Linked DNA regions of Homo sapiens: region 1 is linked to region 2. The links come from fine-mapping of genetic effects on gene expression. Tissue or cell type: whole blood. Region 2 holds a variant in brackets; the other region holds the start of a gene. All regions are shown on one strand. Distances are from middle to middle.

The links. PIP is the estimated chance that this variant, and not a neighbour inherited with it, causes the effect. A credible set is the group of variants that fine-mapping cannot tell apart.
Region 1: it holds the start of GHRL, and the variant in region 2 is the best candidate, but not a certain one, in a credible set for the expression of GHRL in whole blood (TOPMed, PIP 0.67).

Annotation. Positions count from the first base shown.
Region 1 is chr3:10,290,867-10,295,251 of GRCh38, reverse strand. It overlaps GHRL (ghrelin and obestatin prepropeptide), which reads left to right and starts at 2,305. Exons shown (of 6, transcript NM_016362.5): 1 at 2,305-2,410; 2 at 3,801-4,385. It overlaps GHRLOS (ghrelin opposite strand/antisense RNA), which reads right to left. Exons shown (of 6, transcript NR_073568.1): 6 at 1,803-3,184. RefSeq lists enhancers at 2,113-2,407, 2,218-2,467, 2,478-2,547, 4,059-4,385.
Region 2 is chr3:10,256,195-10,260,579 of GRCh38, reverse strand. It overlaps TATDN2 (TatD DNase domain containing 2), which reads right to left. Exons shown (of 8, transcript NM_014760.4): 3 at 1-443. Among named protein-coding and RNA genes, the nearest start is that of TATDN2, 9.9 kb to the right of the region's middle. The variant C/G (reference allele first, on the strand shown) is at 2,424.

The DNA of each region.
Region 1 (4,385 bases), 35 kb before region 2:
AATAATATCACAAAGAATAGAAGTGGGGAAATGAAAGCATTCTGTGGTGCAGTTCTTACACTATCTGTGAAAGGATATCGTAGTTGTTGAAGGTATTCTGCAATATGTTGAAGTCATATTTGTAAATCCTAGAGCAACCACTCAAAGAATAGAACAGTACAGTATAGCTAATAAGCCGACGGTGAAGACAAAATGATACCATTCAAAACCCTCTAAAAGTGGTTATGACAAGAGAAAGAAAAGGAAGAACAGATGGGACAATGGAAAAATTGGTGACTTACAAATAGTCTGGAGATTAACAGTAATGTGCTAACACTGGTGTTTTAATTTTGATAAATGTACTACGGTTATATAAGATATTCACGAGTGGAAACTGAATTGGGTTATTCAGAGAGAAAGATTTCATCTTCCATATGTTTATATTTTCTGCTGGAAGCAAGCATTTATAATCAAAATTTACCTGGGATACTTGGTAATTTATAATCAAAATTACCTGAGATACTTGAAACAGATTCTAAAGCCCCCACGCCAGAGCTACTGGATCAGAATCCAAGGATGGAGTCTTATAAACGTGCATAAAACTTATGAAGCTTTCCTCATGAATCCAACACAACCCAACACAGGTCTGTATCTGGAAATTGAGACGAGATGGCCCTCCAAGCCACGTCCCACCCTGAGGTCGTCCTATGGCTCTTAGCGGTCCATAGACTAAAAGGCTGGATGATCAGCAACGCTGAGACAACAGTTTCAGTACAGCAGTGGGGATGAGAGGCAAGGTCAAGTTTTGAGGGGCCAGGACACAGCAAAGAAGAGGACACAAGGAAAGGGGAAGGAAATGGAGATGGTAACACGAGGGGAGGGTGGGATCGGTGCACAACAGACGTTTTCAGGATTAGGAACCTGGGTGTATTTTAAGGCAGAAAGCAGAAGCCACTGGAGGGGAACAGAAGACACGAGAGAGGCAAAGTGTTAGAGCTTTGGCCCCAAGATGGCCGGAGGCTAGGGAAGCCCCAGTGAGAGAGGCAGAGCTTGGCGAAGAGGAGGGATGAGAGAGCATGGCTAAGGTCAGGGAGGATTTAAGAGCGATGGCCGCCTATCTAGAATGAGCCGCATGTGGCTGCTGAGCATTTGAAACATGGCTAGTCCAAATTGAAATGCACTGTAAGAACACACACTGGATTTCAAAGACTACACATCTGTAATCCCAGCACTTTGGGAGGCAAAGTCAGGCAGATCACTTAAGCCAGGAGTTCAAGACCAGCCTAGGCAACATGTCAAGACTCTGTCTCTACAAAAAATACAAAAATTAACTGGGTGTGGTGGTGTGACCTGTAGTCCCAGCTACTTGGGAGCCTGAGGTGGGAGGATCATCTTAGTCCAGGGAGGTGGAGGCTGCAGTGAGCCATGATAGTGCCACTGCACTCCAGCCTGGGTGACAGAGCAAGAACCTGTCTCAAAAAAATATATATGTATATTCATTTAGACATATGCTGTTGCACACTTAGACTATAGTATGGTATCAGCATACGTTTTATATTTACTGGGAAACCAACAAAATTCGTGTGACTTGCTTCATTGTGGTCTGGGACCAAAGCTGTAATGCCTCCAAGGTATGCCTGTATATTTCTATTGCAAAATGTGAATCTCGAAATTATAAAAGCTACAACTAGGACAAAAAGCAACCCCACCAAATAGCCCTATATCAAAGAATAAAATCTCTTTCTAGAACCCCAGAATTTGCCTCTTTCAGACTGAAGTTTAGCCAAATCTATGAAAAAAGAGCTTGCTAAACCAACTAATTATCAGTACAAATAAAATTATAATGAAAAGTCTATGAAGATAATTTGTTCTCAGATGCCCTTCACATATAGCAATTAATTCACAAATGATGAGTCACTCATGTGCCTTCATGAAGGCAGGCCCTCAAGAGACCCGCAACAGAAAGGAAAGCCACCGACTGGAGAGAACCTGCTTCCTGAGCCCCACCAAGTTCCAAAAAGGAGAATGGGGCTTCGTCCTCACCCTCAAGGAGTTGCCAAACTGGGCTTGGTTATTATTCACACTTGAAAAGAATGAGGAAGGTCAGCCAGTCCCCTCCAGGTCGCTCGGGCTTCCTCCAAGCTCCTCTTGGTTCAAATTTGCTGTGTCCTCCAGCCGGCATCTCTCCTCTGTTCCGTAACTGACAGGGCAGCGAGGTAGCTTCCGGATGACTCCTCCCGCCATGGTTCTTCCGTCCATCAGCTCTTCCTTCCTCAACTCTGTGGTATGTGGCTAGGGGAGTTTCCAACTCCCAGGGGACATTTCAGTTCCCCAAAGATAACACAGCTTTGCACAGTGGATGTTTACTTGCTGGTGGTCTTATCTAAGATCAACATTGGCAGCTGTGCCCGGAGAGGCCTCCAGGGTCCAGGTAAGTGGAGGCTTCATGTCTCAGGAGGTACCTGGTCACCACAGTTAGGATTTTTCTGTTTGGGGATTTTTTTTTTTATGGGTTGGTGGCTCTGAAAAAGCTGCAAGTCTTCTCTGAGGACTACAGACCTCTCTCCACCCTCTCCACATTCAGCCTCTCTGGGCTCCAGGGCCAAAAGATGTCTACACTCAGGTGGCAGACAGGCCTGTGAAGACCTCCTGGTGACATGCTCATATGTTGCTGGGACTAAAGGTGGGATTTTAGCCACCACAGTGGGTTGGTGGTGAGATGTTTACCAACAGGAGGTACTTTGTCCCTCATGTCCACTTAAAGATTCAGTCCAACCCGGCCTGTGCTTCTGCTGTCCCAAGAGACTCTAGAAAGCTCCAATCCTCCCTGAGGTTGATCTTTTAAGTCAGGGTAGGTGGTCATTCGGCAATCAACTGCTCTACTGCCTCAATGTCCTCCTCACTGGACGTCCTGCCCCAATTCCATCCTGTTCAGCGCAGACTGATTTTCCTGGAACACAATGTTCATTATGGAGCCAGATGGCATATCAGAAAGAGCACTGTATTAGGAGTCAAGAGATCCATGGGGGAATCCCAGCATTGCCCCTGATGGCTGTATAGCTTTGGGGAAAGTGAGGCCCTCTTGGCATTCAGTTTTTCTTCCAGCGAAATAAAGGATTCAGCCTCCCAGAGCTTTAAAGTCTTTCCAACTCTTTCATTCATTCTATGGTCTCTCTCTCCTCAAGAATCCTCAGTGGCTGCCCTCCTGCAAAAAAAGCCCAAACTTCTTGGGCTAGCAGTTCCCAAGGCATCCATCACCTGGCCCCAAACCACCTTCTTATGTTTTTGTTATGACCCCATCGCCACCCTCCCCCAAGCCACCCAGCCTTCTCCATGCTGCCCTGATGTACTCTACCCACGCCTTCACCTCCCCTCTGCTTGCCGCAAAGCCCTCCCTCCAAAGCCCTGCCCCGAGTTCACCACAGGCCTCTTTCCTGGAGCCTTTGCTAACATCCCTGCCGCAAGCCCCAGCCTAAGGTGAGCTCCTCTCCTGAACTGCTAGAACTTCTCTGCAGACAACTCATTGGCCCTTAGGGGTTCCTGCCTGGGCACCCAGTTGGATGAAGCACTCCAGAAAGGAAGAAATTCCTGGGGCCGAGGGAAATGAGGCAGTGGCCTTGGCCTATGCTGGGAAGTCCTATGGGCCTGGTATGAAACCATTGTCATCTGCAGGGTGTTTCACAGGTTAGAAGCCACTTTCCCCCCATCGCCTCATTTCACCCTCAAAGACTCTGGGTAAGGGGAATTATTTGTGGTCGGCGTAAGGCCAGTCAATGAGAGAGGAGCCAGGCCCGTGCTAAGCGTAGATCTTCCACCTCCAGGTCCAATGCACTTCCCTCTCAGAAGAGGCATCCGCTAAAATAGGGACCAAAGCTGCTGGAGGGAGGCAAGGCAAGCTGCTATGTGAAAAAACGCCAGGCCAGGCAGTCATGTCACACCTGGCAGAAATGACTGAAGCATAGCCACTGGCTGAAGTTATCCCCACACCCACTCTCTGGAGAGGATGATCAGGAGCAGTCTGCTCAACCGGGAGGTGGGACTCCTCCTCGGGAAGGTGTAGAATCACCAGCCTGGCTCCCTGCGGACTCCCGGGGCTCACAGAGGCCAGAGCAGCAACAGCACATGGGAAACAACGGGGCGCTGGACTGGGGAGGTCTCAGAGCTCTCCTAGTGATGACAGCCTCATTTTACCCAGGGAGAAAGGGCGAGTAAGCTAAGGTCACACAGCAACAAAGCTGCACCCAGACCCCAGAGCCACTCTCCTCCCTCCCTCCTCCACCAGGGCCATGCCCACTTGGGGCACCCCGCCACCGTGTTCCAGGGACAGCTGGAGCACATGCTTCTTCCCTCGCCAACCCAGCAATTCCGCAGGGCATCTGACCTCCACTGTTGACTTCTACCCAGAG
Region 2 (4,385 bases):
TCCTCACTGGGTTTCTCTTGAGGGTCTATAACTACTCTCCTGTCATAGAAGCTGCTCCTCTCTGGCACTGTCTTATCCTCCTCCATGCTGACCTCTGGGGTTGCGTCTTTCTCCTTCTGAGCAGCAGTGACTGTGACACTCCTGGCTGCTCCTTCTGCAGTCTTGGCTGGTCCTTCACTCCTGGCTGGTCCTTCTCCATGGCTGGGATGCTCTGCTGCGCTTGGTTTTGCCCGAGTGGCAGCCTCTCCCTTCCTTTTTGGCATCGATTTCCCCAGGATGCCCTGGATAGCCTTCAGGTAGATCATTGTGGAGCCCTGGTCTCGAAGTCTATCCCTCTTCCTTTTCTGGACCTTGTTGGGTTCCTCAATTGTATCATTCTGACCCTCAGCTTCAGCTGCAAATTCAGAGTTTGTGGAGTTATGAGAACTATCTTTGGAATCAACCTGGGAAAAAAAAAACAGAATTGAAAGGGCTGTTCCAAGGGCACTTTCGTACATGAAGCATTTGGCAAATTATAAATCAGTGGTGGTTCTACCAGTCAAAGGGAAAGTGACTGTGGCTAAGGCAAAGGTTCTCTCCGGGTGGTGAAGTGGCACTGTAAGAGGGGCTGATTGCTGCCATTTCTTAGCATTCGCCTTCTCATGCTCAGCAGATGATATCCTTTCACTGCAAGGGGACGGAAGGAGCTGAAATGAACACTCTCATTAAACCAGACTGCAAGCTCCTGGAAGGCAAGGACTACACTTCAGGCAAAACAGCAGCTCAAGCTCTTCCCACTGGAAAGGGCCCTAGAAACCAGCTAGCCCAATCCCATATCTAAGGGTAAAGGAAACCTGAGGACCCAGTGAGGGGAAGGGCTAGCCCCAGGAACTCCAATCCCCCAGTTCTGAGTGCAGTGTTTTTCCCACCATACCCAAAGCCTCCTGAAAGTTCTCTGCAAACACTTCCCCTCAAATAATCAACTTGGTTTTGGAAAATACCTCAGTTTCTCAGTGACTGCACCAGGGTCAGTCAAGATAGACTGCTCCCAACAACAAACCTCCTCCAAGACGGAAGTGAAGCCTCAGCCCCCTCTTGCACCCACTCACTCCAGGACTCCACACAGAAAAAGCTAGACTTTGTTTGCCAGACTATTTTGATGTGAAATTCTAATCCAGTCTAATCCCTGCCGGGTGTAAGAACTCTCCACAAATGTCCTCCTAAGGCCATTCCATAAGCAGTAAACCATTATCCCATTTGCATTCCTAAGTCATTTCTATTAAATTCCTCTCAAAAGTAAATACAGACCAGGTACAGTGGCTCATGCCTGTAATCCAGCACTTTGGGAAGCCGAGGCAGGTGGACTGCTTGAACCCAGGAGGTCGAGACAAGCCTGGCCAACATGGCGAAACCCCATCTCTATAAAACACACGGGGCGCGGTGGCTCATGCCTGTAATCCCAACACTTTGGGAGGCCAAGACAGGAAGATCACTTAGGCTCAGGAGTTCAAGACCAGCTTGGGCAAGGTGTCAAAACTCTGTCTCTACTAAAAATTACAAAAATTAGCTGGGCCATGGTGGCACACGCCTGTGATCCCAGCTACACGGGAGGCTAAGGCACAAGAATCGCTTGAACCTGGGAGGCAGAGGTTTCAGTGAGCCGTGACGGCACCACTGCACTCCAGCCTAGGCAATACAGTGAGACCCTATCTCAAAAAAAAAAAGGCAAAATTGCTTTATATGTATATATTCGCAAACAAGTCTAAAAAGCTAAACTGTTTATAATGGATCTCTTTGGGGAATGCAGGGAAGTAGAAAGAGACTTAGGCTCGGCTGGGAGCAGTGCCTCACACCTGTAATCCCAGCACTTTGGGAGGCCGAGGCAAGTGGATCACCTGACATCAGGAGTTCGAGACCAGCCTGGCCAACATGGCAAAACACTGTGTCTACTGAAAATACAAAACTTAAGCCAGGCATGGTGGCGGGCACCTGTAATCCCACTTACTCAGGAGGCTGAGGCAAAGAATCGCTTGAATCGGAAGGCAGAGGTTGCAGTGAGGCAAGATCGTGCCACTGCCCTCCAGCCCAGGCAACAAGAGCAAAACTCTGTCTCAAAAAAAAAAAAAAGAAGCAAAATAAAAATAAAATTACAAAAATTAGCCAGGCGTGGTGGCACATGCCTATAGTCCCAGCTACTCAAGAGGCTGAGGCAGGAGAATCACTTGAACCCAGGAGGCGGAGGATGCAGTAAGCCGAGATCATGCCACTGCACTCCAGCCTGGGTGAGAGAATGAGACTCTGTCTCAAACAAACAAACAAACAAAGGCTTAGGTGCTTATATTATAAGCTTCTTGTATCATTTGAAATTTTTTTCCGAAGAGCACATCATATTTTTTTTTAATCATTATCCTGAATCAAGGGCCAAAGGAAAATAAAACTTAAAA[C/G]AATCATAAACCTAGCTGGGCGCGGTGGCTAATGTCTGTAATCCCAGCACTTTGGGAGGCCGAGGCGGGCCCATCGAGACCATCCTGGCTAACACAGTGAAACCCCGTCTCTACTAAAAATACAAAAAATTAGCCGTGCGTGGTGGCGGGCGCCTGTAGTCCCAGCTACTCGGGAGGGTGAGGCAGGAGAATGGCGTGAACCCGGGAGGCGGAGCTTGCAGTGAGCCAAGATCGTGCCACTGCACTCCAGCCTGGGCTACAGAGTAAGACTCCATCTCCCAAAAAAAAAAAAAAAAAAAAAAAAAAAAAAAAAAATCATAAACCTTTAGAAATCTATACTTGTTAATATAGACATCTATTTTCCTGAAAGTACTCAAACTGTTGGCAGCTGCTAACTTCACGAAGATGAATAGGAAAGGTGGTGTTTGCTATCATTTTGAACCTCTGTGGACTTAGTAAATTTTCTTACTTTCTGTATTTTCTAACGTGTCTACAGAGATTATTTGTTAAAGGAGGTTACGGGTCATTTTTGTTTTTTTTTTTTGTTTTTTTTTTTTTTGGAGACAGTGGTGCGATCTCAGCTCACTGCAACCTCCGTCCCCCAGGTTCAACAGATTCTCCTGCCTCAGCCTCCCAAGTACCTGGGATTACAGGCATGTGCAATCACACCTGGCTAATTTTTGTATTTTTAGTAGACGGGGTTTCGCCATGTTGGCCAGGCTGGTCTTGAACTCCTGACCTCTGGTGATCCACCCACCTCGGCCTCCCAAAGTGCTGGGATTACAGGTGTGAGCCACCGCGCTCAGCCTGTTTTCTTTGTATCTTTTTATATTTAAGGAATTCATATATATATATATATATAATTTTTTTTTGAGGCAAAATCTCACTCTGTTGTCCAGGCTGGAGTGCGGGGTGTAACCTCAGCTCGCTGCAACCTCCGCCTCTGAGGTTCAAGCAATTCTTGTGCTTTAGCCTCCCTCCCAAGTAGCTGGGATTACAGGCATCTGCCACCACACCTGGCTAATTTTTTTTTGGTATTTTTAGTAGAGATGGGGTTTCACCATGTTGGCCTAACCTCAAGTGATCTGCCCGCCTTGGCCTCCCAAAGTGCTGGGATTACAGGCATGAGCCACCGTGCCTGGCCTCTAATACTAATAATAAATTTGATGACTCCCAGGGCCTGCCCTGTGAGACACAGCCCCAACTTCCCAGCCCACTTCTCTAGTGCCCTCTTCTGCCTGCCACCAACCACCTGCCACCCTTGGCCCATCACACCCTCTTACACATTTGCTAGCACATCTTATCTCCTCTGCTTGCCATGTCCTTGCCTCCGTCCCATTTTGTGTTCCCACCTGTCTGTTAAGGCCCCATCTCCACTGACTGCTTCTCCACCCCTGCCCTCTGCTCCCGCTGTAGCCACATATACAACACAGAGGGTGAGATCTGCAACAAACTGAGGAGTATCTGCACCCTCAGACGGGCAGCTGCTCCTCACCTCTAACTGGTGCCATTTGAGAGTAGAGAATCAGAGTTAGAGATTCTGTTTCTTTCAAGTAAAACCAGAAATATTGAATTTAGTGCACTTTTCAACCATTAAGCAAGCACTTACTAAGCACTTACTCTGTGCCAGCAGGCACGGTTCTGGACCTGTGGGTTTAGCGTTCAATAAAAAAAAAAACAAGGCTGGGTGTGGTGGCTCATGCCTGCAATTCCAGCACTTTGGGAGGCCAAGGCAGGAGGATCATTTGAGCCTAGGAGTTCAAGACCAGTCTGGGCAACATAGCAAGACCCCATCTGTACAAGAAAAATACAAAAATTAGCTGGGTGCAGTGACCCACACCTGTAGTCCCAGCTACTCCAGGAGCTGAGACAGAAGGATTGCTTGAGTGTGGAAGGTCAAGGTCACAGTAAGCCGAGCTTGTGCCACTGCACTCCAGCCTGTGGAGACGCTCCAAACTTTTG